Homo sapiens: one gene and its partners. The protein of the gene in region 5 interacts with the protein of the main gene of each other region in a biochemical or structural test. Each region holds a gene or a part of one and is shown on either strand. Other genes may lie near its edges.

What was found.
Region 1: the proteins of SYNCRIP (region 5) and SYT3 form a complex in vitro, tested with the Homo sapiens proteins (one study listed by BioGRID).
Region 2: the proteins of SYNCRIP (region 5) and HMGA2 form a complex in vitro, tested with the Homo sapiens proteins (one study listed by BioGRID).
Region 3: the proteins of SYNCRIP (region 5) and APOBEC1 form a complex in vitro, tested with the Homo sapiens proteins (one study listed by BioGRID).
Region 4: the proteins of SYNCRIP (region 5) and SYT7 form a complex in vitro, tested with the Homo sapiens proteins (one study listed by BioGRID).
Region 6: the proteins of SYNCRIP (region 5) and SYT1 form a complex in vitro, tested with the Homo sapiens proteins (one study listed by BioGRID).

The regions. Positions count from the first base shown.
Region 1 is NC_000019.10:50,629,097-50,634,214, reverse strand, and holds part of SYT3 (synaptotagmin-3), read left to right. Parts: intron 1-1,403; coding exon 1,404-1,929; intron 1,930-4,043; coding exon 4,044-4,431; intron 4,432-4,702; coding exon 4,703-4,921; intron 4,922-5,118. UniProt on the Homo sapiens protein: Ca(2+) sensor involved in Ca(2+)-dependent exocytosis of secretory vesicles through Ca(2+) and phospholipid binding to the C2 domain.
Region 2 is NC_000012.12:65,826,420-65,831,537, reverse strand, and holds part of HMGA2 (high mobility group protein HMGI-C), read right to left. Parts: intron 4,696-5,118; exon of another isoform or gene 4,564-4,695; intron 3,538-4,563; coding exon 3,451-3,537; intron 1-3,450.
Region 3 is NC_000012.12:7,654,995-7,660,112, forward strand, and holds part of APOBEC1 (C->U-editing enzyme APOBEC-1), read right to left. Parts: intron 1-5,118. UniProt on the Homo sapiens protein: Cytidine deaminase catalyzing the cytidine to uridine postranscriptional editing of a variety of mRNAs. Form complexes with cofactors that confer differential editing activity and selectivity.
Region 4 is NC_000011.10:61,573,529-61,578,646, forward strand, and holds part of SYT7 (synaptotagmin-7), read right to left. Parts: intron 1-5,118. UniProt on the Homo sapiens protein: Ca(2+) sensor involved in Ca(2+)-dependent exocytosis of secretory and synaptic vesicles through Ca(2+) and phospholipid binding to the C2 domain.
Region 5 is NC_000006.12:85,613,476-85,617,799, forward strand, and holds the end of SYNCRIP (heterogeneous nuclear ribonucleoprotein Q), read right to left. Parts: intron 1,873-4,324; coding exon 1,281-1,872; 3' UTR 501-1,280; downstream 1-500. UniProt on the Homo sapiens protein: Heterogenous nuclear ribonucleoprotein (hnRNP) implicated in mRNA processing mechanisms. Component of the CRD-mediated complex that promotes MYC mRNA stability.
Region 6 is NC_000012.12:79,283,651-79,288,768, reverse strand, and holds part of SYT1 (synaptotagmin-1), read right to left. Parts: intron 2,983-5,118; coding exon 2,798-2,982; intron 1-2,797. UniProt on the Homo sapiens protein: Calcium sensor that participates in triggering neurotransmitter release at the synapse. May have a regulatory role in the membrane interactions during trafficking of synaptic vesicles at the active zone of the synapse.

The DNA of each region.
Region 1 (5,118 bases), on a different chromosome or scaffold from region 5:
AAGTCCATTTCAAAACAAATTCCCATTCCTTGAAGGTCATTTCTGAAAAACCCCACTCCTGGTACCAATTACTGAAGAAGCCTAAAACCTTTGATTGTAAGAACAATTCTGTACTTGGGTTTCTCTGCAAGGCATATCAGCACATATGTGGCATTCAGAATGTGTTAGCTATCTTGTTGATGGTGTTGGACGCACATAGTGGCAGCAATAGGATTTATTATTCTAATAAAAATTCACATTTGAACTACCATTTATTGGGAAGCGTTGAGGTGTGATAGCATCATAGTAAAGACCATGGGCTCTGAAGCCAGGCTTCCCAGACTTAAATCCTGACTCTACCACCTACCAGCTATGGACTTTGAGCAGGTAACTATGGGTATACAGACCTCAGTTTTCTTTTGTGGAAAACAGGGATAAATATGTTGCCAACCTCATGTAGTGCCTGGCAGGCTTAAATAACCTGATCTCTATAAAGTACTGAGCTATTTGGTATGTAATCACCCCTCAAGATATGTTTGTTATTATCTTCCACATGTGATTTACCTTCTGCATTCCTTCAAACTACTGTAAGAGGGAAGAACTGATTTTTCCTACTTGGAAAATGGGAAATGTAAGGTTCAGAGTGGTCAAGATATGTTCCCAAGGCCACACAGCAAGCGTGATTTAAACCCTGCCCTGCCTAACTGTGTCGTGCAGGGTCCATGCTTCCTTGACCATCTCTGAGCATTTTGGAGGACCTTGGTGCTACCTCACATGTTGTGTTCTATTATAGAGAGGCAGCAAAGTCTAGTGATTAAGAGAATAAAATCTGGAGAGAGACTGCTGGATTCAAATCTCAGAACTGTCATTTATTACTTGTAAAACCTTAAACAAATCACTGAATCTCTCTGTGTCTCAGTTTCCTCATCTTTAAAATGGTCATATAGAACTACTGGGCTGGGCACAGTGGCCACATCTGTAATCACAGCACTTTGGGAGGCCAAGGTGGGAAGATTGCTTGAGGCCAGGAGTTCGAGCCAGCCTGGGCAACATAGCAAGACCTCATCTCTACAGAAAAATTTAAAAGTTAGCCAGGTGTGATAGCACATACCTGTAGTTCCAGCTTCTTGGGAGGCTGAGGTAAGAGGATTGCTTGAGCCCAAGAGTTCGAGGGTGCAGTGAGCTGTGATTATGCCACTGCACTCCAGCCTGAGTAACAGAGATTCCATCTCTTTAAAAAAATACAATACTTAACCTTGTAGAGTTGTAGAACATAAATTAAGTAATACATGTAAAGTGCCTGGCACTTGCAATTGCATGGACAATTGCATGGCAAATATGAAGGGTTAACTCTTTGGGGACAGCAGAGGGAGGATGTACTGTGACCCCATCCTGACCCCTACCTCTGTCCTCGTTCTCTCCAGACATCTCCGTGAGCCTGCTGTCGGTCATCGTGACATTCTGTGGCATTGTCCTTCTGGGTGTCTCTCTCTTCGTGTCCTGGAAGTTGTGCTGGGTGCCCTGGCGGGACAAGGGAGGCTCGGCAGTGGGCGGTGGCCCCCTGCGCAAAGACCTAGGCCCTGGTGTCGGGCTGGCAGGCCTGGTAGGCGGAGGCGGGCACCACCTGGCGGCTGGCCTGGGTGGCCATCCTCTGCTGGGCGGCCCACACCACCATGCCCATGCCGCCCACCATCCACCCTTTGCTGAGCTGCTGGAGCCAGGCAGCCTGGGGGGTTCTGACACCCCTGAGCCCTCCTACTTGGACATGGACTCGTATCCAGAGGCTGCAGCAGCAGCAGTGGCCGCTGGGGTCAAACCGAGCCAAACATCCCCTGAGCTGCCCTCTGAGGGGGGAGCAGGCTCTGGGTTGCTCCTGCTGCCCCCCAGTGGTGGGGGCTTGCCCAGTGCCCAGTCACATCAGCAGGTCACAAGCCTGGCACCCACTACCAGGTGAGAGAGGATACTGGGTTGGGGGTCCACTCTGAACTTCTGCTCCTCCTCTGTGTCTCTTTCCTATCTATAGCTCTTATGAGTTCGGGATTTGGAGGGGAATCGGGGTATTGACTCCTGGATCTTAGGGAAAGAGGAGGCTGGGGCCCTAGACTCCTGGATCTGAGGGAGGTTGGGGCTGTGGGGTCTAGACCCCTTGGACCAGAAGAAGTAGGGGACTGGGGGCCTGAATTCCTGGGTCCAGAGGGAGGAGACTGGGGGCAGGACTTAGGACAGGAAAGTAGAGGAGAATAAGGTTGGATCCCCAAGTCCCCTGTGGCACAAGGCAGTTCACCCCCTTTCACCCTAAGCCAGGATTGGTAGTGGGACCTGGAGTTCCTTCATTCATTATTTCTCAATATACATGTAAATGTATATTGAGCACTGATATAAACTAGGCCTGAGAGGGGTGTTAGGAAAACACCAGACTCTGCCCTCCTGTCACTCACAGCGCAGGGGAGGCGACCCCCAGACTGGCTGTCCTGGTGTAGCCAGGTTGGTGAGACAGGAAAGCGACTCAGGGAACCGCAACTGGGAGAAGGCTGGGAGCTTCCTGGAGGTGGAGATGTCTCAGCTGAGACCTGCAGGCTGAGGGAGAGTTGGGAAGGCAAAGAGGCAGGGCTGTGACCTGGGCATTCCAGGTGAAAGGAGAGGCCCAGGCAAAGACAAGAGGAGAACGAGATCCTAGTGCATTGTGAGGACAGCCCACACCAAGGGGACAGCCAGGGCACCAAGCCTTAGTCACCAAGGCATGAGAATAAGTTTGAAAAACGGAAAACTTCAGGCTGGGCGCAGTGGCTCATGCCTGTAATCCCAGCACTTTGGGAGGCCGAAGTGGGCAGATCACTTGAGGTCAGGAGTTCGAGACCAGCCTGGCCAATATGGTGAAACCCCATCTCTACTAAAAATACAAAAACAAACAAACAAAAATAGCCGGGCATGGTTGTGTGTGTCTGTAATCCCAGCTACTCGGGAGGCTGAGACGGGAGAATCTCTTGAACCTGGGAGCCAAGATTGCACCACTGTACTCCAGCCTGGGCAGCAGAGTGAGACTCCATCTCAAAAAAAAAAAAAAAAAAGAAAGAAAGAAAAAAGAAAAAGAAAACTTCAGAGATGTGACTACAGACACCAGACCACATGGGGCTTTGAGTGCCCGCCTGAGGGTCTGGGACTTTGTCCTGAGGGCACTGAGGAGCCATGGGAGGGCTGTGAGCAGGGGAGGGGCAGGCTCAGCTCTGGGTGTAGAAGGAACCCTCTGGGGCCATATGGGAGTGGGCTGGAGGGAGACACTGGAGGCTGAGAGTCCAGGAGAGGACAAGGCCTGAGCTGTGACCAGGACAGTGGGGATAGAGAGGAGAGACAGCCGGGGAGATTAAGAGAAGGGCAGAAGAGCGTTCAAAGAAGGTCTGCCAGGGGTCCATGGAGAAGCATCCTGGGTCACCAGCTTGAGGTCCAAAAGAGGTTACTGGAAGCTGGTTTATGCACAGGTCTGGGCTGGAGCTAGCTTTGAAATGGGGAGAATGAGGCTGGGTGTGGTGGCTCACACCTGTAATCCCAGCACTTTGGGAGGCCGAGGCGGGCAGATCATCTGAGGTCAGGAGTTTAAGACCAGCCTGACCAACATGGTGAAACCCCATCTCTGCTAAAAATATAAAAATTAGCCGGATATGGTGGTGCATGCCTGTAATCCCAGTTACTCGGGAGGCTGAGGCAGGATAATCACTTGAACCTGGGAGGCAGAGTTTGCAGTGGGCCGAGATCGCGCCTTTGCACTCCAGCCTGGGTGACAAGAGCAAAACTTCGTCTCAAAAGAAAAGGAAAGAAGGAAGGAAGGAAAGAAGGGAGGGAGGGAGGGAGGGAGGGAGAGAAGGAATGCCCCCCAGATACCAATGGGGAATCTGAGGCTCAGAGAGCACAGTGGCTTCCTCAAGCTCACACAGTGAGCAAAGGAGGGGACTTGTGGCCACCTGGCTGGGGGATGGGGGGAAAGGCAGGGAGGAGTCTCCCAGGTCTCTGCATGCAGTCGAAGATCAGAGCCACTGACCTCACCTTGGTCTCCCCCCAACCCCCTACAGGTACCCAGCCCTGCCCCGACCCCTCACCCAGCAGACTCTGACCTCCCAGCCGGACCCCAGCAGTGAGGAGCGGCCACCTGCCCTGCCCTTACCCCTGCCTGGAGGCGAGGAAAAAGCCAAACTCATTGGGCAGATTAAGCCAGAGCTGTACCAGGGGACTGGCCCTGGTGGCCGGCGGAGCGGTGGGGGCCCAGGCTCTGGAGAGGCAGGCACAGGGGCACCCTGTGGCCGTATCAGCTTCGCCCTGCGGTACCTCTATGGCTCGGACCAGCTGGTGGTGAGGATCCTGCAGGCCCTGGACCTCCCTGCCAAGGACTCCAACGGCTTCTCAGACCCCTACGTCAAGATCTACCTGCTGCCTGACCGCAAGAAAAAGTTTCAGACCAAGGTCCGGAGCAGCGGGCTGGACACCGGGTTCCCACAGAGAGGGAGCTAGGGCTCTGGACTCCCGGGTCTGAGGGAGGAGGGGCTGGGGGCCTGGACTCCCGGGTCTGAGGGAGGAGGGGCTGGGGGCCTGGACTCCCGGGTCTGAGGGAGGAGGGGCTGGGGGCCTGGACTCCTGGGTCTGAGGGAGGAGGGGCTGGGGGCTGGACTCCTGGATCCTGTGGAGGAGGGGCTTATGGGCACGGTGTCTGTCTCCTGTCGCCCACCACCACCAGGTGCACAGGAAGACCCTGAACCCCGTCTTCAATGAGACGTTTCAATTCTCGGTGCCCCTGGCCGAGCTGGCCCAACGCAAACTGCACTTCAGCGTCTATGACTTTGACCGCTTCTCGCGGCACGACCTCATCGGCCAGGTGGTGCTGGACAACCTCCTGGAGCTGGCCGAGCAGCCCCCTGACCGCCCGCTCTGGAGGGACATCGTGGAGGGCGGCTCGGTCAGTGGCCCTCTCCCCTGACCTTCCCCTTCCCAGGGCCCTGAGACCCCCCGGGTTGCAAGCCCCCTGCCCTCAGAGTTCATAACTTCCTCACTTCTTGTCCCCACATTTTTCTGTTAAAATGTATCACACTGGGGAAGACTGCAAACTTACAGGCAAGAATAGAGAATGAGCCGGGCGCGGTAGCTCATGCCTAT
Region 2 (5,118 bases), on a different chromosome or scaffold from region 5:
TACACCTAAAGTCAAAAGGGTGGTGAACAAATATATGACATGATGAAGTAGGGTTATCTCACACCTGAGATCTTTTTTTTTTATTTTCATTTTCCTTCCAATAAAATTTAATTCAACCTCAGAAAAAAACTTCCTAAAATATGTGAATGAGAATTGGCTTAAAACTTAAAGGTGAATTTGACCTGAGACCTTCAACACTGAAGAATTAGTGACAACCCCTCCAGTATTCTGTCATGATTAAAAAAGTACAACAAAACCCTAAACTAAAGGAGATTATAACTTCTTTCTCTCTAACCATCTGGGAACTGTAAAAATGCAAAGATTTCCATCCACCACAACCAGGAAAGCAAAGCAAAGCAAAACAAAACAAAAAAGGAAGTTAAGACATAACTGGTCATAGGTGTACCTCAGACTAAAAAATAAATAAAAGGGTAAAGATATGCTCACACAGACGTATACACACATGGACAAATGAATTATTCAGGAAAACTTTAACTTCTGATTTCTTTTATTCAGGTAACTATATGAAACTGATTCAGGGACAAATTTTGAGCACTCAGATTGGAGTTCTGAGGAATGACTAGAATCATTACACAATGGTCATGCATAGTAATTAGTTTTAATGGAATATTAAGTAGATTGAAGAATAATTATCTTCTCTTCCAAAAGTTCCAAGCATAGGAAATTGTGTTCTTATAAATGTCTTTGTTTTACATATTATATAAATCAATTTTCTACTGAATATGGTTTGAAATTGAAGTGATGGCTAATTTAGTAGTCATTCACTTGGTCTTGCAACATTCTGCATGCATTGTCCAGTTTCACACTGTTAATTTTCAAATCAACAGCTTTGTTTTCAAATGTCCCAAGGCCAATTACTGAATCCAAATATAAACTTTGTAAGTCAAGAAACTCCAAGCAGCAAGAAATTTTAAGTATATAACCATCAGGATTTCAGTGTGCATTGCAGCTCCTCTAATTTTAGGCTTCTTTCTTCTCATATACTTACCAGTCTTTGCAATGTATTTTGCATTGTGATGGGTCTCAGTTTACAGGAAAACACTCACTTTGTTACTCATAGAAGACTTCTCATATCTATTCTGGTCAGTCTCACAGGGTATGTTTATCTTACATGTTATGAACAATATAACTTTTTCTAAAAAGATTTGCATTGCAAAATCCTGACGAACATATATGTTTTGTTAGAACACAATATATGCTTAATAAACAAATGTTTGAAAATCATATTTATATAGAATAGTAACATACTCAACAAATTCTGATTTGAAAGTGAAAATACCTTAAGTTTACACATGCCATGAACGATTCATCAATGTCATTCATTATTTTGCAAGGTATTCTCTTCTCCAGATGAAGCGTAATTTATAAAACTGAAGAAAAATAAGTCATGTTATGGGCAAATGTATTTATTCATTTTTATTACAAGAGGGATTTTTATAACACCATTGTAGGAAATAATTGTGTCTGAAAGAATGAAAGATTCTGGAGAAGGAATCTTTAGAAAAAAGAAAGCCTACTTCTGTTTTGGAAATTGGAATAATGTATGCATACACATGAAGAATTTTCAGAAAGATGAGCGGCGTAGGGGGGTCATTTACAAATGCCTGTCACTAGAGTCACTAAAAATAAATCAACCCTTACTTAGGAATAGATCAACTTTAAAAATTTTGCTTTAGGTGGTAAACTAGGCACTAGCTTCAGCTTCCCTTTTCTCAATACAAATTTTGTTAGTCAGTGGTAAGCTTTTTAAAATGAAGCGGAGGCGATGGGAGCGTTTCTATCTATTCATCCAAAAAACATGAAATATAGTAAAATATGGGAGACAATTCATTTTCCTTTTTAGTATTAAATTTCAAATTACTTATTTATGGTGAAATTTAAAGATTTCTTCCTAGGAGATATTATCATGATGTGTTTTTCAGAGGAATTATACCACAGCTTAAATGCGTGTCAGCTATCTAACAAGATATTCATTTGTGCATCTCCTTAGAATAAAAGTAAATTAGGTAAACTCCACACTTACACAACATAGAAAAACTCCTTGGTAAAATCAGTCCATTTTAGTTAATTTATAAATGAGATAAAATGAAACAAATGTAAAGTATTCATATTAAAAATACCAGATTATATATTGCCATTTTTAAATAACAAGGTTACTTAGAGCTATTTTAAAGTTTATTGATTAAATAAGAAACAATTAAATCTAAACTCTAAGAAGCAATTAAATTTAAATATATTAAAAATATGCTCCTCAACTCTGTTCAAAACTGTTAAAACAGACAAGAACTCAGAGTAACTTCCTAAATAACTTTATATGTACCATTAGTTGCTATGGCAGTTTACATACATTACAGTTAGTACCCACAGTCACAAAGAAAATCACACAAAACATTAATCCCCAAACGATGAGCATATAGTCCTTTCTAACAAATACTGTACATGGAGTACCCAAAACCGGTGAAAAGGTATATCCAAATTTAGTTCTGATTTTTGAAACTTTGTTCTCAATTACTACACAAACCTACAAATACAACGCAGAAACTTTTTTTTCCAATTTATTTATAAAGTCAAAAAAGTGACTGGTACTTCTCTATACATGCATTAACCCTGACATAGTTCCTCTTTGCTAGCTTAAACACAGCCAACCTGAAGTTATCTTAAACTGCAAGTTTAAACTTATTAAGATAAACACTGAATATTACACTTAACTGGGTTCCATTCTGCCCAAAAAGAGATATTAAATGAGCCAAATACTTGTTTTAAAAAGTCTCATTGTCCAATTCAGACATTTCTATGTCACTTGATGAAAAGGCATTTTGAGATTATGATATACTATACTGCAGGTTTATTGTAAAACAAACAGTATACTTTATTATCACAATTAAAGCTGCAAAATTCATGGAATTTTTCCACTATCCCACAACTAGATTTACTTCTAATTATCGTCTATTTGGCAAAGTACTTTAATAGGGGGATTTGGTTTGCAGTAGCCATGTAATAAGCACAAAGTAAATCAATCTTTATCATTTTTCAGAGGAAATTGCAAAAACTTTACCACCAGGCAAAATCTATAGTTTTGATTTGTTTTTAACTATTTACAACTGGTGCAAATATTAATTGTGTCATTTTCATCCCGCCCCCCCCGCAACCCCTTCCTTCCTCACTTCTACCCGTTTTAAGGTTCAAATTATTTGGTGGCTGTTTGTTTAAAAACAACACTGTTAAGTATCTTCATAAACTTTTTATGCTGAGCATCTGCTTACAAAAAAGGTTAACTCGCATCTAACTAATGTTAAATGTAAGAAATGAGTCTTGTGTTACCCAGTTGGGACAAATTCCTGGCTGCGGAGTTAGAATGGGAAAGTTACAGGCAGGCTCCTGTAGTCAGTCATTGATGAAGTTAGGAGAGCTTGACTTGAGAAATCTCACCTTTTGAGCTGCTTTAGAGGGACTCTTGTTTTTGCTGCCTTTGGGTCTTCCCCTGGGTCTCTTAGGAGAGGGCTCACCGGTTGGTTCCTAATTGTGAGGGAAAAAAAAATGCTGTTGTGGCAAGAATGTCTGAAAGAAATTGACCCTGACTCTTTAGCTATATTTTCTGCATGTGCTGCTCAAAAGAGCTGTTGGAACACGTTCAGTTCAAGCATAAATGGATGATGATGGTACAGAGTTTACAGAAAGGGGAAATAACTATACTTTTAATGCAAGGGTTCAAAGAGGAAACTCTATTTTGTATATGAAAACTAGATTCTACTTCAAACCTAAAATGGTAACAAAGACTGAAGAGGCATGTTCTAGAAAGAAAGTCATATACTTTTAAGGTGTAAAGTTTACAGGGCTATGCATTTGGCAACTCATAGGAATAATAGGCATTTTAAACGAACACCACTCTGCATTATACTAGCATTTCAAACAACAGAAATACGAAGCTACCATCACAGATATTTCAACAATCTTCCATATTGAAAAGGTGGCCTTTAATCATCTTTGTATACCTGCCTTCTAGGTGGATTATGATTCAACTGACACATTTTGAGTGAAATACTGGAGCAATTATTCAAGTTCTTCAGTTCAAAATAACTCCATTCCCCCTAAAATTTCCAAATAATTATAGTAAATCTATGGTGGGAGGTTTTGCTTGAATCATCTAGTTAATTGCTTCAATTCTCCACTTCCTTTTGGAGATGCAGGCATGGCCTCCAGTCTAAATTTAAATATCTTTTGATAAAAATAAACATATTTTCTTCAAAACTTTCTTTTGAGAAAACTCTTATGGGGGTGGAGTGGAGAAAACTAAAAGGAGGTAAAAGCGAGGAGGAATGGAGTGTCTGGGAATGAGAAATGGAAGCAATCACTTGGTTTAGCAAAACTTTAAATGGCTCCTATGCCAAGTAGTAAATACTCAAGTGGTTAAGAGAATGCGATGATTAATATTCCAGATCCCAAATATTTATCCAGTGAATCATCTATTCACATTTCATTCAGATTCGGTGATTAAGTGAGACTAATTAACTTAAAACCCATGAACGTCCTCAATGAAAATTCGCATCCCATTTAGAGAATTCGGGAAGGTTCCCTGCAAGCTTCTGTGGGACCACTAGCACCAGTGGGCACATCGAGAGCAAACACATCGGAGACAAATTTTTCTTTCTTTGTGAACTCTGCCTTAACTCAAAGGTAAAGTATCCAATCACCTCCAGACCCCATTGTAATTTCTTTTGGATTTTTTTTTTTTTTTTGGAGGGGGGGCAATTAGTGAGTTAGAACTGGGTGGCGGGTGGGAAACAAGTGGGGGAGGGCAGAGACTTCCTGGGAGGTGTAAAACAGGATTCAAATGCGGTGTAAAGTGTCGCTTGGGCAGAGCGGGAAAACTCAGGGGCCTCTAGATCGGCTTGTTTCCTTTGATGATTTCAAAAAGGTACAACTCTCAATTTTTCTAAAATGCACTGGCAAGCAAACATTGTTCAGTTTCCCCACCTTGCTCTCGGACAACTTTGGGACTCTAGGATTATTTTCTAATCGGCGTGTTTGCCATGAAGGAAGCGATTTAAGACTAAGCAGAGAGCAAGTTTTAAAGCCCGAGAAAGTGGAGTTTAAATG
Region 3 (5,118 bases), on a different chromosome or scaffold from region 5:
GGTCAGGAGTTTGAGACCAGCCTGGCCAACATGGTGAAACCCTGTCTCTACCAAAAATACAAAAATTAGCCAGGTGTGATTGCGGGCACCTATAATCCCAGCTACTCGGGTGGCTGAGGCAGGAGAATCACTTGAACCTGGGGAGAGGAGGTTGCAGTGAGCCAAGATCGCACCATTGCACTCCAGCCTGGGCAAAAGAGCAAAACTCTGTCTCAAAAATAAAAATTAAAAATAGGCCCGGTGTGGTGGCTCACGCCTGTAATCCCAGCACTTTGGGAGGCTGAGGCGGGCAGATCATCTGAGGTCGGGAGTTCCAGACTAGCCTGACCAACATGGAGAAACCGCATCTCTACTAAAAATACAAAAAAAAATTGGCTGGGCGTGGTGGCGCATGCCTGTAATCCCAGCTACTTGGGAGGCTGAGGCAGGAGAATTGCTTGAACCCAGGAGGTGGAGGTTGCAGTGAGCCGAGATCACGCCACTGCACTCTAGCCTGAGTGACAGAGCAAGACTCCTTAAAAAAAAAAAAAGAAAGAAAGAAATGGAAATACAGGAAATGTTATGACACGATGGGTAGAGAAGCCTAATGTAGACATGGGCATGGACAGCTTTGAGGGGCCTCACAGGGAGTGGTGCAGACCATGGTGGTGGAGTAGTTTGGAAAATAGAAAAGGAGGTGGCATTGGTGGGGCTTTGATTTTATATATATAGAGAGAGAGTGCAGTGGCTTATACCTATAATCCCAGCTTTTTGAGATGCCAAGGCAGAAGGATCTCTTGAAGCCAGAAATTTGAGACCAGCCTGGGCAACACAGTGAGACCCCATTCCTACAAAATGTAAAATTAGCAGGGTGTGTTAGCACACACCTGTGGCTACTTGAGTGGCTGAGGAGGGAGGATCACTAGAGCCCAGGAGTTCCAGGTTACTGTGAGCTATGATTATGTCACTGTACATAGCCTGGGTGATACAGTGAGACCCTGTCTCTTAAAAAATTAAAATTTTATTTCATTTGTTATTTTTTTTGTGGAGGCGTGTTCTCTCTGTGTTGCCCAGGTTGGTCTCAAACTCCTGAGCTCAAGAGATCCTCCTGCTTCAGCCTCCCAAAGTGCTGGGATTACAGGCATGATTCACCATGCCTAGGCCAAATTTTTTTTTTTTAAAGAAAGAAATAAGGAAATAAATGGAAGATGTGTATTTGAGAATTTATATACCGCAGGCCTGCTGCTCCCCTGCATGACCCTGGTCAGATTACTCCATGGTTATGAAATCATGCCTCACCTGGCCTACAAACTAATCAGTGTCACTCCGTGGAAGAAAGTCTGGGCTGGAAAGGACAGAGGTTCAGTTTCCTGGGGTGCAGTGTGAGTGGCCCCGGCTTTGGAGTGATCTAAGCAGTACTTTGTTTAGATGGCTCTCCTGGCCCTTATCATCAGAGGAATATGGACCCCGCACTCTAGAGGAGGAAGTAAAACCAGGCAAAACCACGTCCTCCATTCAGACTCTCAAAGGTGGTTACAAACTTAAAATGGTCCATGAATCTCAGTCTAGTCTAAAGAAGCAACACAGTGTTGCAATCAAGAGCCAAGGCTCTAGGGTCAGAGAAAAATGGGTTATAATCCCAGTTTAGCCAATTACTTGCTCTAACACATTTGGCAAGTTTCCTAACCTCTCTAGACCTCAGTTTCCCCATTTGTCAAATGTAGACCCTAAGATTGCCTATTCCACAAGGTTGTCGGAAGACTCACGTAACACAATGAATGGAAAACATTTGCAAGGTGCCTGACGCAGCAGATGCTTCATAAACGTTAAGCACTGTTATTACGGCAGCCTTTCAGAGGGTTAGAAAGATGCCTGTTTTATGTTTATTTCAATGGCATGAACATCATTGACATTAAATGTCAACTTGGGAATTTTGAGGAGGTGAGAGCCTCCTGTGTAAGAATACTTCTCTTTCTTATCTCTACTATTCGGTTTGCCATGCATATGCTTATGGATTTTTAGTTTGGGTTGCAAAAATACCCACTTGGTGTCCTAGTGTGTTGTATATACGTGTGTGTGTGTGTGTGTGTGTGTGTGTGTGTGTGTGTAAATAGCTATTTAACAGAGGAAAAAGGGAACTAATAATACTGGTAACATAAACATCTCAATTACATATTTGGCATCCCAGCCAGAATCATTTGAACCAACTGCATTTCGTACTAAGTTACTACCCTTGAATTGAGCCTCATGTGTATGTTTCCTCGCCATGACTGCCAAATTGTTAGCTGAATGTCTAGTTGCATAACATAGAACCTAAGTTGAGCCAGTCCTTGGAATATGTCTCCAAAGTCAGAACACTTTTGAAGTGACTCTGAGGCTTTTTGCACCTTTAAGGCTGGAGAGAGGTGGATTGCACACTTTCTGACGTTTTATTTTTCATATAGAGGGCTAGCCATATACTGTGAAGTATGCTTTCTACGGTAGGCCCAGGCCATTCCCATGAAAAGAAAGTGAGCAAGGGCTGTGGAAAACTGAAGATAAGCCTGCATCTAGAGCTACTAAATTCCTTAAAATAAAAACAATCAATAACAACAAAACAAAATTAAAAAACAAACCAGGCTGTAGGCAGTGACTCACACCTGTAATCCCAGCACTTTGGGAGGCCAAGGCAAGATGGTCGCTTAAGCCTAAGATATCAAGGCCAGCCTGGGTAAAATGGGGAAATTTCCGTCTCTACAAAAAGATACAGAAGTTTAACCAGCTGTAGTGGTGCATGCCTGTAGTCCCAGCTACTAGGAAAGCTGAGGTGGGATAATCACTTGAGCCCAGGAGGTTGAGGCTGCAGTGAGCCATGAGCATGCCACTGCACTCCAGCAGGGGCAAGAGAGACAGACCCTGTCTCAAAAAAAGATAATAATAATTAAACTAAAATTATAAATAAATAACAAAAAAAATACCCAAAACTATTTCCTGGAAAAGAATTGAAGTCTATGACAAAAATGCATGGACTGATCAAAAGTCCCTAATTTCTTCCAATTTCCGAAATAGAATCACCTGGAAATTGATTTGTTCTGTTTTGTTTTGTTTTGTTTTGTTTTGTTTTGTTTTGAGACAGAACCTCACTCCACCACCCAGGCTGGAGTCCAGTGGTGCAATCTTGGCTCACTGTAAACTTTGCCTCCAGGGTTCAAGTGATTCTCGTGCCTGAGCCTCCCAAGTAGCTGGGATTACAGGCATGTGTCACCACACCCGGCTAACTTTTGTATTTTTAGTAGAGACGGGGTTTCACCATCTTGGCCAGGCTGGTCTCAAACTCCTGGCCTCATGTGATCTGCCCCTCTCAGCATCTCAAAGTGCTGGGATTACAGGCGTGAGCCACCGTGCCCGGCCAAAATTGGGTTTTTATTTCAGGTTTGATAGATGATTAAATAGGTGTTGGAGTCCTTGGTTACAGGTACATTATTTTTCAGACTCAGGCTGCGTTTTGAGAAAGGCGATACAGGAATTGGAGACTAAAGATTTTGATTTATGGCTTGATTACCCAACAGAGGTGTCACAGTGCCAGATGGTCTCAGAGTCAGTGGCATGAAGGAAAAAGGAAGTCTGTGAGACCTCACTGTAAGAGGCTCATGACAATAAAATTGAGTCTGAGAACTCTTCTCAAGCTAATATTTTTAAATAATAATCACTTGGCACATATTGATTGAAAATTTAGGCCAGGCGCGGTGGCTGACTTTGGGAGGCTGAGGCAGGTGGATCACCTTAGGTCAGGAGTTTGAGACCAGCCTGACCAACATGGCGAAACCCCGTCTCTACTAAAAATACAAAAATTAGCCGGGTGTGGTGGCACATGCCTGTAATCCCAGCTACTTGGGAGGCCGAGGCACAAGAATCACTTGAATCTGTGAGGCAGAGGTTGCGGTGAGCCCAGATCATGCCGTTGCACTCCAGCCTGGGCAACGAGAGCAAAACTCCATGTCAAAAGAAAAAAAAAAAAAGCACTTCCACCAAAAAAAGAAAATTTAAAAATATATTTATAGGCCGGGCGCGGTGGCTCATGCCTGTAATCCCAGCACTTTGGGAGGCTGAGGCAGGCAGATCACCTGAGGTCAGGTGTTCGAGACCAGCCTGACCAACATGGAGAAACCCTGTCTCTACTAAAAATACAAAATTAGCTGGGTGTGGTGGCGCATGCCTGTAATCCCAGCTACTCAGGAAGCTGAGGCAGGAGAATTGCTTGAACCCAGGAGGTGGAGGTTGTAGTGAGCCGAGATCGCGCCATTGCACTCCAGCCTGGGCAACAAGAGTGAAACTCCCTCTCAAAAAAAAAAAAAAAAAAAAAAAAAAAAATATATATATATATATATATATATATATGTTTATATTTGAAATTTAAAAATCACACACACACACACACACACAAAAGGAACTACCGGCAACCTGGAGTACTTGTGACCAACTCACCATTTAATTTGCACCAGGGAGATACAAATTAAAACCACAATGAGATATTCCTACACACCTATCAGAATGGCTATATGTGTGTGTATAGGTGTGCGTGCACAGACACGCATGCAAAACACCAAATGCTGGTAAGGATGCAGAGAAACTGAATCTGTCATACTTTGCTGGTGGGAATGTAAACTGGTACAGCCATACTGGAAAACAGTTTGCAAATTTATTTTAAAAAAGAAAAACTAAAAATGCAACTACTGGCCAGGCACAGCGGCTCATGCCTGTAATCCCAGCACTTTGGGAGGCCGAGGTGGGCGGATCATGAGGTCAGGAGATCGAGACCATCCTGGCTAACACGGTGAAAACCCAACTCTACTAAAAATACAAAAAACTGGCCAGGCGTGGTGGCGGGCGCCTGTAGTCCCAGCTACTCGGGAGGCTGAGGCAGGAGAATGGCGTGAACCTGGAAGGCAGAGCTTGCAGTGAGCCGAGATCAAGCCACTGCACTCCAGCCTGGGCGACAGAGCGAGACTACGTCTCAAAAAAATAAATAAATAAAATAAAATAAAGTTTCAATTTAAAGAAAGGGTATTTGGGCCGGGTGCGGTGGCTCACGCCTGTAATCCCAACACTTGGGAGGCTGAGGCGGGTGGTTCACAAGGTCAAGGGTTCAAGACTAGCCTG
Region 4 (5,118 bases), on a different chromosome or scaffold from region 5:
GCTGTCAAAGTTCTTTATAGAGATCTGCTCAAAAGCCATCCATGGCACTCCATGCCTTACTTTTTAAAAGAATTTCAGTTTTCCTATTTCAAAATGCCAACTCCTTCATAATCTGGCCCAACCTACCTTCCCAAGCCTCACTTCCTGCTACTGTGCCCCAAAGGTCTCCCTTCTGGCCATGCTCAAGCACTCCCTGCTGCCTCAACCGGCCAAGATCCCTCGAACCTCTGAGCCACTGCATGTGCTGTCCCCACCTCACCAACTGCCTCACCTCTGCTCGCTCACATGGCAAAGCTCTTATTCTTCCTTCAGGACTCAAGGCCCTGTATCTGAAGCTCACACCCTTAGGTCTGGCAGCGTGGCTGGAATCCCAGACCTACTTCTAACTGCAAGTTCGCACTTCCCAAGGTGGTTCTGAGGATGGAGGCGCTAACGCATGTTATGTGCTTAGAACAGCACCTGGCACATAGTGAGCACACAACATGTCTCTGCTATTCTGATGGTAACCTAACTGACACTGCCTCCATGAAGCCCTCCCCAACTCCTCCACCATGGAGGTAGCAGGCATGTTCTCCTTGGAGGATCCAGAACCCTCATCCCACACATCAATTGCTTGGTACAGGACAATGTTGAGAACAGCTACCGCTGGCTGAGTGTTTACTATGGGCTGGCTCTCTGCTAAATACTTTTTCTGCCTTATCTCACCTCATCTTCCAACCGCCTGGGAGGTAAGAACCATCATCATACCCATTTAACAGAAGAGGAAACCCAAGGCCAGAGAGGTGGGCTGACCTGCTCCAGAGACAGAGCAGCAAGTGTCTCTGCCAGGATTCAAATCAATAGCTGTTTGACACTAGAGCCCTAGCTCAAGCAAGCTGTCCCTGGAGGCACATATGTAAAGTGCTCAGCACATACTGAGTGCTCCACAAGGCTTGCTATTATCATACTATTGTTATTATCAGGGGAGGACACAGGATGTGTTTGGTGACCTGAGACGGGATTCCTTAAGCTGGTCCCTCTGCAAAGCACAAAACCCCCATTCCTGGAGAAAGTGTTTCCAAGGGTCCCTTGGCTGCCATCCCTGACCCCCATCCTTGGATGGGGGTCAGGGATGGTAAGGAGGTGTGCAGGGAGTCCCAGTATCTGGACGCGGGGCACTTCCTCTGAGGGGTGCTGGAGCAAGCAAATGCTTGAGGGGGCCCTCCCGGGCCCAGGCCTGGCAGAGCGGGAGAGAGCCTGCTATGTGCCAGCCATGCTGGCCGCCGCTCTCTGGCCTCGCTGACACCACCCCATGGTAATGAGACGGATCCAATTTGTACCCAGGGCCCCGCCGGGAGCAGCTGCCGCGGCAGGGTTTGAAGTAATTTAATTGGACACATTAGCTGCATGCTCTCTCCTCCACTCCCCTCGTGCAGAGCCTCATGCAGGCGCCCCTTCTGCCTCCCACCCCTCATGCCACCCTGCCCTGGCTGGTGGCAGGGTGCATGCTCCACCAACCAGCTAGGACTAACAGGTAGGCACCGTTCCTCTCTCATTCCTGGGGCTCCTGGGGGCTCTAGAACCAGAGGGCTCTCTAGGTCCCAGGTTCTCCCCAATCTCTGATGCAAGCAGCAACTATGGCAGCCCACTGGGGCTAGAGTTCAGACCTCTCCCTCCCGTCTCCTACAATGGGCAGAACAGTCACCCCCCTTTCTCCTTCAGTCAGCCATGGAAGCCACCAGCCTTCTGCACTCCAGGAAGGACACCGAAGGAGCAGGGCCAGCAGCATATGCCTGTTTTACCAGCATCTTTGGTTTTGTCACTATTAGGGTTTGTCACTATCAGGGTCACTACAGAGATGATAGGCAGCCCTCCTCTTAGGGCCTGGGGAAGCAGTGCATACACACATGCACAGACCAGACCTAGTCACAAACACACAGGCGAGATCAGTTTGACCCAGACACATACACACATACTAACAGCCCCACACCGTCATGGAAATGCTTGTATCTTACACATGAAAGCTCCCATGATCACCCCCGTCCACACCCATGTATGCCACACAGCCAGGTAAGGCCCTGCTCCGAGCAGACGAGGCCTTCATGGCCATGCCAGCAGGTGGGAGGGTGTGGCAGGGGGTAGGCAGGGTCCCTGGCACACAGGCCCTGCCTGGCCAGGTACAGGGCCGGGGGAGGGGCCCTCCCCTAAAGCTTTCCGTCATAGCTCCCCACGCACCTCAACGCGCCTCGCTACAAATACACTCATTAGCTGCTGTTTACAGCGGTCCTGGCACTTCGATAAGCACAGATATTATGGCCATCCAGCTGCCACCCGCACACACACTAGGTACACATACAGACAGTGCCTCTCCCCCTGCCTCCGCCCTCCCCTTCCACCCGTGGGCTCAATCACATGAAGATACCAATTCCCCAAACATGCAGCTTTGCAGGGGTTCCAGCTCACAATACCTCAGCTCCCGGTCCATTCTATCCCAAGGGGTCCTTCCAGGTGGAGGCTGCAGAGACTCCCCAGAGCAGGCCGGATGCACCTGCCCGCCTTCCAACCAACTGGACCTGGAATTCCAGGCCAAAGCTCTGGGCACAGTCCAGCCCTTTCCACAAGTCCCATGCTGTCTGCCAACTCTGTTCCAGCCCTTGGGGAATTCTGCTGGGTGAGACCAAAGCCCTGCCCTGCAGACACTAGTTGGACAGGGCCCAGCAGGGCTGCCCCTGCTGCCTGGAAGGTCAGGGACCTCCATGCCCACGGAACTGGCAGAATTCACCTGGCATCACCAGCTGGGGTTCCCTGGCAAGGCAGGCAGGCACCCGGGCTGGGCCTGGCACAGGCTGGTGCCGGCACCTGGCCAGACCAGTGACTGCCCCGACGAGAGAAAGTTGACCTCTCGGCCACATATGCCACCTGCCGGGCACTGTCTGTGGAGCAGAGGACCAGCTCTATACAGGGCTGCCCATGCCCACCTGTGATGCCACAGTGCTCTGAGGAGCCATCAAGCCAACTCATTCTCCAGCTGGGGGTCATCAGCTCCGGACTGGGCCTCCCGCCCCCACGTGACCCCTCCCAGCTCTTCTCCCTGCTGTTCTTCTGTTCTTGGCCTCACTCCCCTGGGGGAACCAGTTATTGAAAACGAAAACGGTCCATCAGATTCAATAAGGATTCAAAGTCCGTGAGAGAATAGGGGGTGGGTGGGGAGTAGGATGGGGGGACTCAGGAGGGGCAGGAGGGGGAGGGAACCATATACGGCTCCTCTGCCTGTTCCACACAACATCCTGCAATGGCCGGGCTAGAGGGTGTAACAAGGAGACAGCCCCCACTGGCACTCCATGTTGCCCTCAATGCCCCTTAAGCCTGAGCTTGGGGTCAGCCAGGAGCAGAACCCAGCTGCCCAGGGCCTGTCTTTGCTCACCCAGCACCCACCTATTGACCTGCCTTCCAGCTGTCCCCTTACCTGTCACCTACTGGCCTGTACGTTCCCACCTCAATCCGGCCTGCTCTAACCCCCTCCCCAGTATGAGGAGGGGCTTTGGGGCTATCTCCCTCCCCACTATGCCCCAGCCCTCAAGCGGGCAGCTTGTTGATCAAGCTTCCCTGCAAGGCCACAGAACAGTGTGAACCAGGGCCCTGGAGGGGGCCTGTCTCCATGGTAACACAACAGCTTGGGGGCACTGGCTACCCTGGCCCATGCCCCATTGAAATCATCCTCACCCCCTCTGGGTTTTAGACTTGCCCAGCCTCAGGTCCTCCACTGTGTCCTGGCCTGTGGGGAGATCATTCGATCTTCAGTCCGGACTCTAACTCAAGCCCAGGATGCAGGCCAGGGAGGCCCGGGCATGTGCCGATGGGGCAGGCTTTGGGGAGGTAGGTGGGAGGAGAGAGGTTGTTGGTGAAATGGGTGGACACAGTCAGGCCTCCTTGGACCTTCCCACACTCCAGCCCTGGCCTCTAACCCAGGTGTTCCTCAGGGCATACCCTTGATCTGCCCTTTCAGCCACACCCCTAACTTCTGCACCTCCCTCACCCGCCATCAGCCTCTTCCCCTAACTTGTGCCCAGTGACTGGAGGGTTGGCCTGGACAATCTAGTGGATCCTTCACCTTGAGAGAAGAGGCCCGCTGTGCCAAGGCCCCCTGCCCTGCATGCTCCCAAGTCACGACCTGCCTAGTGGAGTGTCTGTAGGGAACAGAGCCCACTAACAGGTGGGACAAAAGAAGGCTTCAAGCACTACTACTCCCAGGGACAAGCTCACAGAGGGCTGGGGGCAGGGCAGGCAGCCTTCAGGACCTAACCTCTGTCCCAGTGGTTCCCTCTCTGGCCTTGCTTACCAGCTCACTGCAAGGTCACCTCTCCCTCCCTCTCTCTTTTCCTGCCGCTGTCCTGCCTGCCCACTGCAACGCTGACCCCTGCAGGCCTGCTGGGGCCTGCCTGGCCTGGGGACAAGCAGTCCGAGAGAAACAGGGACTTCAGGATGAACCAGAGGGTGAAGGCTGAGGGCAGGAAGAGGCCGTGAAGTCTGGGAGGGGGCAGAAGGGAGGCTGCAGGTCTGGTCTAGGGAGGCTGGACAGAGTGTGGAGCTGGAGCCTGGGTGTGCATGGGAGGGGGCTGGTCTGGGTTCTTCACTGGACTCCGATTATTTCCCACAGTCCTTTTCTTCATTCACAATAGATCAGGGAACCAAGGGCCTGGGGGCCTGAGGCCCAAGTAGGGAGAGAACCACACCTGTCAGGTAAGGTCCTCACAGTAGCTGAGCCCTTAGGGACCTGCATAGTAAGTGGGATGAGGGAGGGAGTACCACAGGGATCTTCTGGAACCAGCATGAGGCAAAGGGGAGCAGGAGAGGACAGATTTTTTTTTTTTTAAGGATTGGGCCGCAGGTGTTCCTGAGAGTGGGATGAGAGGATCAGGATATAAAAGGCACTGGCCCCTGGGAGACCAGAGGGGAGGGGAGGGGTGGCCTGAGTTACACATAAATCAATTTGCATATCTCAGTACCAACCAGTACCAGCCAAGGGGAGATGGGGAGGCAGAAATGGGGGACACAGAGCCCTGGCTTGGGGAGCTGAGTCTAGGGAGCCTTGGGGGAGCTGGGGGGAAGGGAAATCTGACCTGGAACTATAGAGCCTAC
Region 5 (4,324 bases):
TCACTGTTGACCTAGAGTCTGTCCCCCAAAACTCTAACATTTTCCCATCATTACTGTTAGAAGTATAGACCATATGGCCAAAACAAGACTAAAATGTGAAACAAAAATCCAAACTATTAGATCTTTAATACAAACCAGTCTGTGAGGTAAATTTTATCCTTCAGATATATATTTGCTTACCCAAAACTAACTGTAAAGCTGTTTTATTTTTAATTAGGTAAGTACAGTGATTATTTAGAGTGCAACTCACAAATTACCCAAACCTATTCCCATTGTTTTCACACTAGAGTTTCTTTGCTGCTTTCTAGTCCCATGGTGTGCAAAACAGTCAAGAGGGCAATATACTCAATCTGAGTTTTAGGTTAGTTAGGATAAACTTTAGGCAACTGAAAGTGGACTTGTCAGTGTGACCTGCAAACCCTTTGAGACTACCTGAATTTGTCCTTTTATACAGTTCATTCATCACAATTAAGAACTCTAAAATACTTACCAACTTAAACTTACTACATGTATTATCTTTTTATTTTTGATGGGAACATGAAGTCTGTTGTAAAATAGCACTTTAAACCAGAAGCAGAAAACTGCAATAAATCAGTGTTGTGTAATGTGCAGACATATTCCACACAAGAATTAACAAGGCACAAAACCCTTTAATTGGCCTTGACATGCTATACAATTTGAACCAAATTTGCAGGAAATTTTGTGAAAAACGAATTGTAAACACAATTTTAGTAAGTATACATTTAGGTGTGAATTTTTTATTGAAATAAACAACAGCATAAAGAATACAAGTAGCCAAAATGGTTTTGAAAACCCAAATTAGGTCAAAGTTCTAAATTAAAAATAGCAGTTGTGTATCAATTTACCTTATTCTAGCAATTTAAGTTGGTAACATACAAAGTTATTCTGATACAAGATATTAAAGACACACTTGGTTTTAATCAACTACCTTTGAAGACACCAAATCTAAACACTACTGGAAACATCGTTGACACTACAGCCAAATGGACTTGAGCCAAATTTTCTCAAGCACAAATGCAAACTCATTAACTATTTCTTTCAGTATCTAAGAATATCTTTATTGAAAAAAATTAAAAATAAAATCAGTTCGCCAGAAGCAGTTAGAAGTGTGGCTTTGTTCGTGTCCAAGCGGATTGTTAAAATATATACATAAAGGGAAATCTTGCCAGATGTCACAAATTATAGCGGCACCCGTTCAGATTTAGGGTGAGTTTCTGATCAACCTATCAGTCTCCAATTTTACAGAGGCCCTACTGTTTCTACTTCCACTGTTGCCCAAAAGTATCCTGATAAAACTCCTGGTTTTCAGATTTGTAACCATAGTTACCAGAATGATCACCACCTTGGAGCGGTTGCTGAGCAATGGGTTGGGAGCCCCAGTTCTGATTATTGGTCTGGCGCCGCTTGGAATCTGGCTGGTTGTACCCATCAGCTTTGCGCTTTCCTCCTACATTTCCACCGCGGCCACCCCTCGCACCACGTACCCCGCGGCCTCTTTGTTGTTGGGCACCTCCTCTCGCACCTCGAACGCCTCTTGCTGATCCAGGACCTCCTCTCTGTGAATAACCGGCTCTACCGCGGGGAGGAGCAGCCCCACGACCTCTGGATGGAGCAGCACCCCTTGCTCCTCTACCACCCCTTCCTCTAGCTCCAACTTGAAAATCTTCATAACCATAGTATGGATCTTCATATCCACCACGATAGTTATGGTAATCATAACCATAATAATCATAATAATCTTCATATCCATAATAATCTGGAGGATATCCATAACCACCTCTACCTCCACGCCCTCGACCTCTTGTTGGAGGGGGCATATGAGGTGGACCATAATAGTAGTAATCGTCATACCTATTAAAAAAGAGACAGAGATTAGAGTTTAAATCAAATTACTTAGTTAACAAGTAGGCATTTAGCCATTTGTAACAGTTTAAATCCAGAGTTTACTTCGCATAATTCACATAACTTTAATACAGAATTATTTGTACTAGATTAAGTTTTAGTAGTAGTAATGATCAGAGGATCAGGATGACAATATAGGCATCCCAAAATACCACAAATCTCTAGTTATGAACCTTATTTATTTCTTCATGATCTTCAAAATCTCCCAATAAACCTGTTACAGAATTTTTACAATTGATTTAGCTGTCAAATTTGCCACTTTAGGGCTGGGAGCGGTCATGCCTGTAATCCCAGCTATGCGGGAGGCTGAGTGAAGCAGGTGAATCGCTTGAACCCAGGTGGCGGAGGCTGCAGTAAGCCAAGGTCACATCACTGCACTCCAGCCTGGGTGACAGAGCGAGACTCTGACTCAAAAAAAAATTTGTCACTTTGAATTGCATTTCTGCTAAGATTCTATTCCAATATACTTGAAGAACATTTATTACAAAAGCAAAATGGCAAGTAGGACAAGCACACAACCAAAATGTGTGAAGTTCAAAGTTTACTACAGTAAATTAGCATAAAGACCTTAAAGTTTTCCTGTTTCTACAATAATGCTATCCAAGTAAAATTTAAAAGATCTGCTACTTTCCCAAAAATAAACTACACCGTAACTATAGTGCTGAACTTTAACCACTAAACAGGTATAACTTTAGTTGTCAAAGTGATTAGAAAGCAACCACACAAATCAGCATATGCTTACATACTATGTAAAAGGACTAAACGAAGTTACAATATTCCAACTCATGTTCCCTACAGTACAATTTTATACAATTCCTTAAAACTTAGTGATTATTTTGAGCCCAATAATCCCATGAAATATGGAAATTAATCCCTCTTGAAGGAATAATTTACTCGTGTTTTTTATTCCGTACCTGTTATGTTATTTTATTTATTTATTTATTTGAGACACAGTCTTGCTCTGTCACCCAGGCTGCAATGCAGTGGCGCAATCTCACCTCACTGCAACCTCCACCTCCTGGGTTCAAGTGATTCTCCTGCCACAGCCTCTCGAGTAGCTGGGACTATAGGCATGTGCCACCATACCTAGCCAATTTTTATTTTTAGTAGAGATGGGGTTTCACCATGTTGGCCAGGCTGGTCTCGAACTCCTAACCTCGAATGATCCACCCACCTCGGCCTAGAGTGATCTGCCCACCTCAGCCTCCCAAAGTGGTGGGATTACAGGCATGAGCCACCACGCCCGGCCTTATTTTATCCTGAATTATTAAAGGCCCCTGTTCCAACTGACTAACGTAAAAATGTTATTCCGGTTCACTAGGTCCTTAGACCTTTTATGTGCTCTGCTGGTTTATTGTTTTGAGGAAATGATGGAAAGATCATCCTTTTCTATTTCTAAATAGTTCTCACCAGGGATAATTTTGCCACCACCTCTTTCCAGGGGGACATTTTAGACGGTCATAACTGAGAAAGGGGGTGCTACTGGCATCTAGCAGGAAGAGGCCAAGGATGCTGCTAAAAGTCCTACAACGCACAGGGCAGCCCCCAAGACCAAGAATTATCCAGCCCAAAATGTCAGGAGGACAGAGATGAGAAATCCTGGTATAGTGGTTAAGAGGGAAAATTATGGGAGACTAGACTACCTTAGTTCAAATCCAACTCCACTACTTACTATGTGAATGACCCCAAGGAAGTTGACTTCTGAGCCTCAGTTTCCTCATTTCAAACTAAGGGATAGAGTACCTAACTCACAGGAATACAGTGAGAATTATGTAGGAATACGTGCTTAGTTAAAACTTAAAAAAAAAAAAAAAAAGACTGTAGCAAGTTAAAGTACGAAAGTAACATGCAATCATCCCTTTTAGTTTGTACTCCTTTTCAAATATTAACAGATATACTGACATCCTCCACCTTCTATTTAGTATCTCCCTCTATCAAGTACCAAATGTAACTGCTCTAATCACATTATCTAATATAATCTCCTATACTTACATTCTACTTTAATAAATTAACCATATATCGTCTTCTGAAAGAAATAAAAAGAAGTTATTTTACACTGTTTAGTATATCCAGGTGTTTGAAATATAGAGCATTAAAACTAACTCTTTTTGTAGTCTTCCTTCATTTACACTATCATCAAACCTACAAAGTATATTTTCTTTGGTCCCAGAACAAGCATGGGTCACTTGGATAATCACATAATCCAGAGCTATTACATAATTTTGTCTGATCCCATTTTAGAACTGAAGAAATTGAGGTTCAGAGCTTGCCAACTTGTCCAACTGGACAATTAACTGCAGAAACTAGAACTTGATCAATTCCCTGATTATGAAGTAACAGAAATATGTAGAAGCATCCTCTTCCTTTAAATTCCAAACAGGGCAATCAACAGAAAATTAAC
Region 6 (5,118 bases), on a different chromosome or scaffold from region 5:
AATATCCACACACATTAGTGAAAACCGTGGAGAAATGACCTTTCCAGACCTATGACTTTACATGTGAATATTTTCCCTCTGTCTGGTTAGTGTTCTCCAATTTTAACACATACAAAAGAACACATAAATATATATCTTATGCAACATAAATGTCTATACTTTTTGTAGTCATTGCAGAATATTTAAAAAAATCTTCCTTGGTTGCAAAACCTTACTATAGAGACATGTAGCCATGAATATTGAAATTGGAATTTCTGTGAATTTGATATGAATTAAAATGGTAAAAATGTATTGATTGTCCTAGAGCCTTTATATCTTGTATATAGAGCCTATATATAGATATTTCTTAAGATTAAGAAATTATATCTAAAATGCCTCTCACATCTGTCTTGTTTTTAAACGAGAAGGGCATAAGCCATCTTTATTTTCTTCCCCATGTTCACTTCAACATTCTGCTGAAGATATTTTGAAAATATAATTATTTAATAATAATTTTAATTTGTATTCATGCTGTTTTGAATTTTGGGTGATCTGGCGATCATCATGTGATGAAACATCCTCTTAAAATCTGCACATTCTATTTTGCTTTTTTAGCCTTCCTCTTCATAAAATGATGGAACCCATGATTAGCTACTTTTGTCTGCTTCAAAAAGTAGCATAAGCTATGGTTATATAAACGTTTATCCCTGGAGTGTATATTCATCTGTCCAAATTGTACCTTATTCTGTGAATTTAATTGTTCATAACTTACAAAAATTGAGACCTAGCTAATGTCCTATGTAGACAAAGTGCTCTACCTAAAATAACTGAAAACATCTTTTTGAGTGGTTGAAATTCTAAATAATTTGCAATAACAGATTAGTATAAACTATCACTGACTTCTTAATATTTCTTTGTTTGAATCATTTTCTCTGTCTCTCCCCATCCAAAAAATAGATCATCAATGAAAAATTAACCCCCATTAATTCTCTATATTTGAGATCTTGGTCATTTATCCAGGTCATAACAGGGGTAATAAACACCACCACTATGCTGTAAATTATAATTTTACATCATACAGAACAAATCCCACAAATATTATAGATTTATTGTCCTAGGAAGAAATGCTATCGTTATCACTTAACATTATTCAGTAATTTTAATTAGTTCTAGAACACAGGGAAACCACATTCAAATTTTATGATAATTATGAAAAAGATAGTGATCTATTGTCAAATTATTGTTTTCACAATATTGATAAAATTAACATACATATTATTCAGTCCATGTCCATCTAGGAGGTTATTTCCACACTTAATCTCCCAATAAGTTGTTTAAAGAAATCTTTATCAAGTCCTGCTTGCTATGAAAAGTGTGGAAATAAAGTAAGACATGCCTGGAAATTTTAGTTTCTACTTAAATTAACTGAAGAGAAAAATCTTTATTAGACACCTGTAGTTGAACGTTTATGCATTGGCTTTTGTGACTGTGATTAGAAATTGCCAGAAAAATCAAACCCTTGCTACTCCGAGCTCAGGCCAAAACTCTCTGAGTATGAGTACAGGCATTTCATCCATTCCATAGCTCCAAAACAGAACAAAAATGCAGGGAGTAAAACATGAGCCTTTGTGAAATTATTATCAATAGATACTATAGTGTCTTTGAGGAAAAAGAGTTTAAAACTGAAGCTGGGAAGGGGAGTTAATGTCCCTGAATGTGTAATGAACTAGGAAACAACGCAAATGTACTTAAAATGCCTGTTGTAACACCTGATTAAATTGTTCTTAAGGAGATTCAGGTTTAAGAGTTTGATTAATAGTAATTAATAGTATAAGAGGAATTTATAAAACTGCTTATATATTTTGCTATTTGGGAATAAATAAAACTTTTGTATTTGATGAAAACATTGATAATTGAAAATGTTAATTCTATAAAAAATCTGTACATTTACATTTTAATTTTAAAATATGAATTAAATATTCTTTAGAGATATTCAACATGGATATTATTTCAAAAATGAAGAGGCATTTAATAATTATCATTAATAATAGTAAACATTATCTTGAACCAAGTTGTCCAATTAATTTAGCCAAAAACAGATAGCAACATAAAGAACATCCAAATAGCTTTTTTGGGCTTGGAAAGATAACCCAGCCAGATGGATTTTATAACCAGTGTTATGGTTGTAATTGTCCTTATTAAATTGAAATGAGAATTTTGTCTTATAAGAAATAAGAAAGAAAACTTTTTCATAAGGCAAAAATTCTATCCTGTCGTGTTCTTTAGAACTGGCTCATATTTCTCTCCCTTCTCCCATGTAACTCATTATTCTTGAGAATTAATTTTTCAGCTGGATGGACATGTAGGAAAAGCAGCTTTCATCCAGTTTGATGAACAGCCGTAAAACTCAGTTATTTAACAGTGACTATGAACAGTAGAAATTAGAAAGATCCCCTGCCCAAATGCAAAACACTCAGGCACTTTTTATCTGATTTTTCTAACTCTAAACGCAATGAAGACTGGTTAAACAGATGTAATCAAAATATTCAGGCATCATTCTCATATGCCAAACCCATCAAGATGGGCCTGATGATCATGGATGCCCTTTTCTGTTCTATATGCTCAGGAGATTGGAAAACCCTGCCAAATGCTTCCATTATGCTTTGGGATCTTGAACAATGACTGAAAGGTTTGCAAAGCATCTCAAAAACGATATGGGTCCAGAAGTTGTTTATTTCTGTAATTATATGGCATAAAATAATACATTTGTTTATCTTTTTTAAACAAAATAAGAAGAAATGTAGAAAGAATACATTACCTGATCTTTCATCGTCTTCCCTAAGTCTTTTACATCTTTCATGTTAATGGCATTCTTCCCTCCTTTTTCCTTTCCCTTCTTCTTGTTTTTCTTTTTGAACAAACATTTCTTACAGATACAAAAGCAGCAGGTCAGGACTAAAAGGACTGCGACTATGGCTATTGCAATTAAGGCCCACGGTGGCACTGAAAGAAACACACAGAGAGCACTAGTCATACAACACTTAGATGTGGAAAACCTTTTAACTCATGGGCTATAAAGATATTCATTTTTTTCATTTGCATTTTTGAGCACCTGTTATGCTGCAGGTACACCATTCCTCAGTACTTTATCCATGTTGTTGTCTCCCTTGAGTGTATTGTTTCCTTTCTTTCCCACTTTGCCCTTCCAGATATGTCAAATGTCATCTCCTCCCTATTACTTTTCTTGACTCTCCAAGCTAGATTTCTAGGAACACATCTCTTCACTCATTCAGAGCCAAGCTTTGGAGTTCAGCCATTGAGTTTAAATCCTGGCTTCACCATTTACTAGCTGTGTGATCTTGGGCAAGTCATCTAACCTCTCTCTGCCTCACTTTCCTCATCTCTAAAGTGGAAATAAATTGGTAGGTACCCCATAGATCTTTCTGAGTATTAAATAATAAGATGCAGTGCCTGGCACATGGCAAAAGCTTAATAAATGGCAGCTGCTATTACTCATCTATAAAATACTAGGTGTTGTATTCTTATGTTCTGGCATGGTATGGGGCAGATATTAGTTGTATATATAGAACAACAAATGTCAAATCATAACAATAGTGAAGGTTAATTAAAAGTACTTGGTGATTTGAAAATCAAGCATGGGGAAAATGTATGCACTGAAGTTCTCCAGATGTGGGTGATGCTCATGTGTTCGGTGGCTCTTAACCCAGGTTTAGATTTTGGCTTCGGCCACTTAGAGGCTGTGTGACTCTACTCAGATTGCTTCACTGTTCTGAGTTTCTGTTTCCTCCTCTATACAGTGAAGATTACAGTGGTACCCATTTCATCTGGCTTAAAGATGAAAGGGATTAATATGTTAAAAAGCTTTTAATGCATCTGGAACATAGCAAGAGCTCAATTAATGTTAGCTATCAATTCTTTTTTTTTTTTTTTTGAGATGGAGTCTCGCTCTCTTGCCAGGCTGGAGTGTAGTGGCACGATCTCGGCTCACTGCAAACTCTGCCTCCTGGGTTCAAGCAATTCCCCTGCCTCAGCGTCCCGAGTAGCTGGGACTTCAGGCACACGCCACCATGCCCAGCTAATTTTTATATTTTTTTTAGTAGATACGGGGTTTCACCATGTTGGCCAGGATGGTCTCGATCTCCTGACCTTATGATCCACCTGCCTCGGCCTTGCAAAGTGCTGGGATTACAGGCGTGAACCACCACACCTGGCCAAAGTTAGCTATCATTTCTTTATAGTCAAGGCATGGTGGGTAAGGCAGAGAGCTCAGGACATATGAAAAAACATAAACTACTCACACAAGTAAATACCTAAAAAGCAAGATAAATACACAGAGGGGAGTTTAGTGAAAATGCAAAGGCAATGAGAGGAGGACGGATGATTTTTAGATAAGAGGAGAGGCTTAGGTTTACAGGCTGTTTAAAATAATAGAACATATATACATAAATATACTAAAATAAACATTGAGTTTTCTATTACAGTTGTCTCTCTGATAAAAGTTAATATATTTTCTTATTTGGTATGCCTTACACCATGTGCTTATAAAAAATAAGGTGACATGGAAACATTTATGATTTCAGTTAGATTGGAAGGGAAGTATTCATAATCCAAATCACAGCTATTGAGATTAATCAGAAGTAATTAGATTTGTCTGTTGTAATAAAAAAAAAAGATACTGGGCACTGAAATGATAAGAAAAAGCCAAATAAACATTACTAGAACCAATGATTGCTGAACACCAGTCAGGAATACTTTGATAAAGTAAAAACACTTAAAAATTAACCTCTCTTCAAAATTGAGAAAATCTACTCTCTTTGCTTTTCCTCTGCATTTAGTATCATTGTGCAGAATACTTACTATGCATAATATTCTGGCTTATGACTGGATACTAGATGTTAACCTAAGGACATAAAACTACAACTTTTGAAATTGTGTTTTCTACCAAAGAAATACTTATGTGACAGTTACAGATAAACCCACACCTAAAGAAGTTTTCTTCCAGTTCTCTAAATTTATTAAACAAGGTAAAGATTACATAAAAAGTAAATTATTTTATGTAACCAATGATATCATTCATAATACTTCATTTAAAAGCATCTATCTCCATTGATTTAGTTA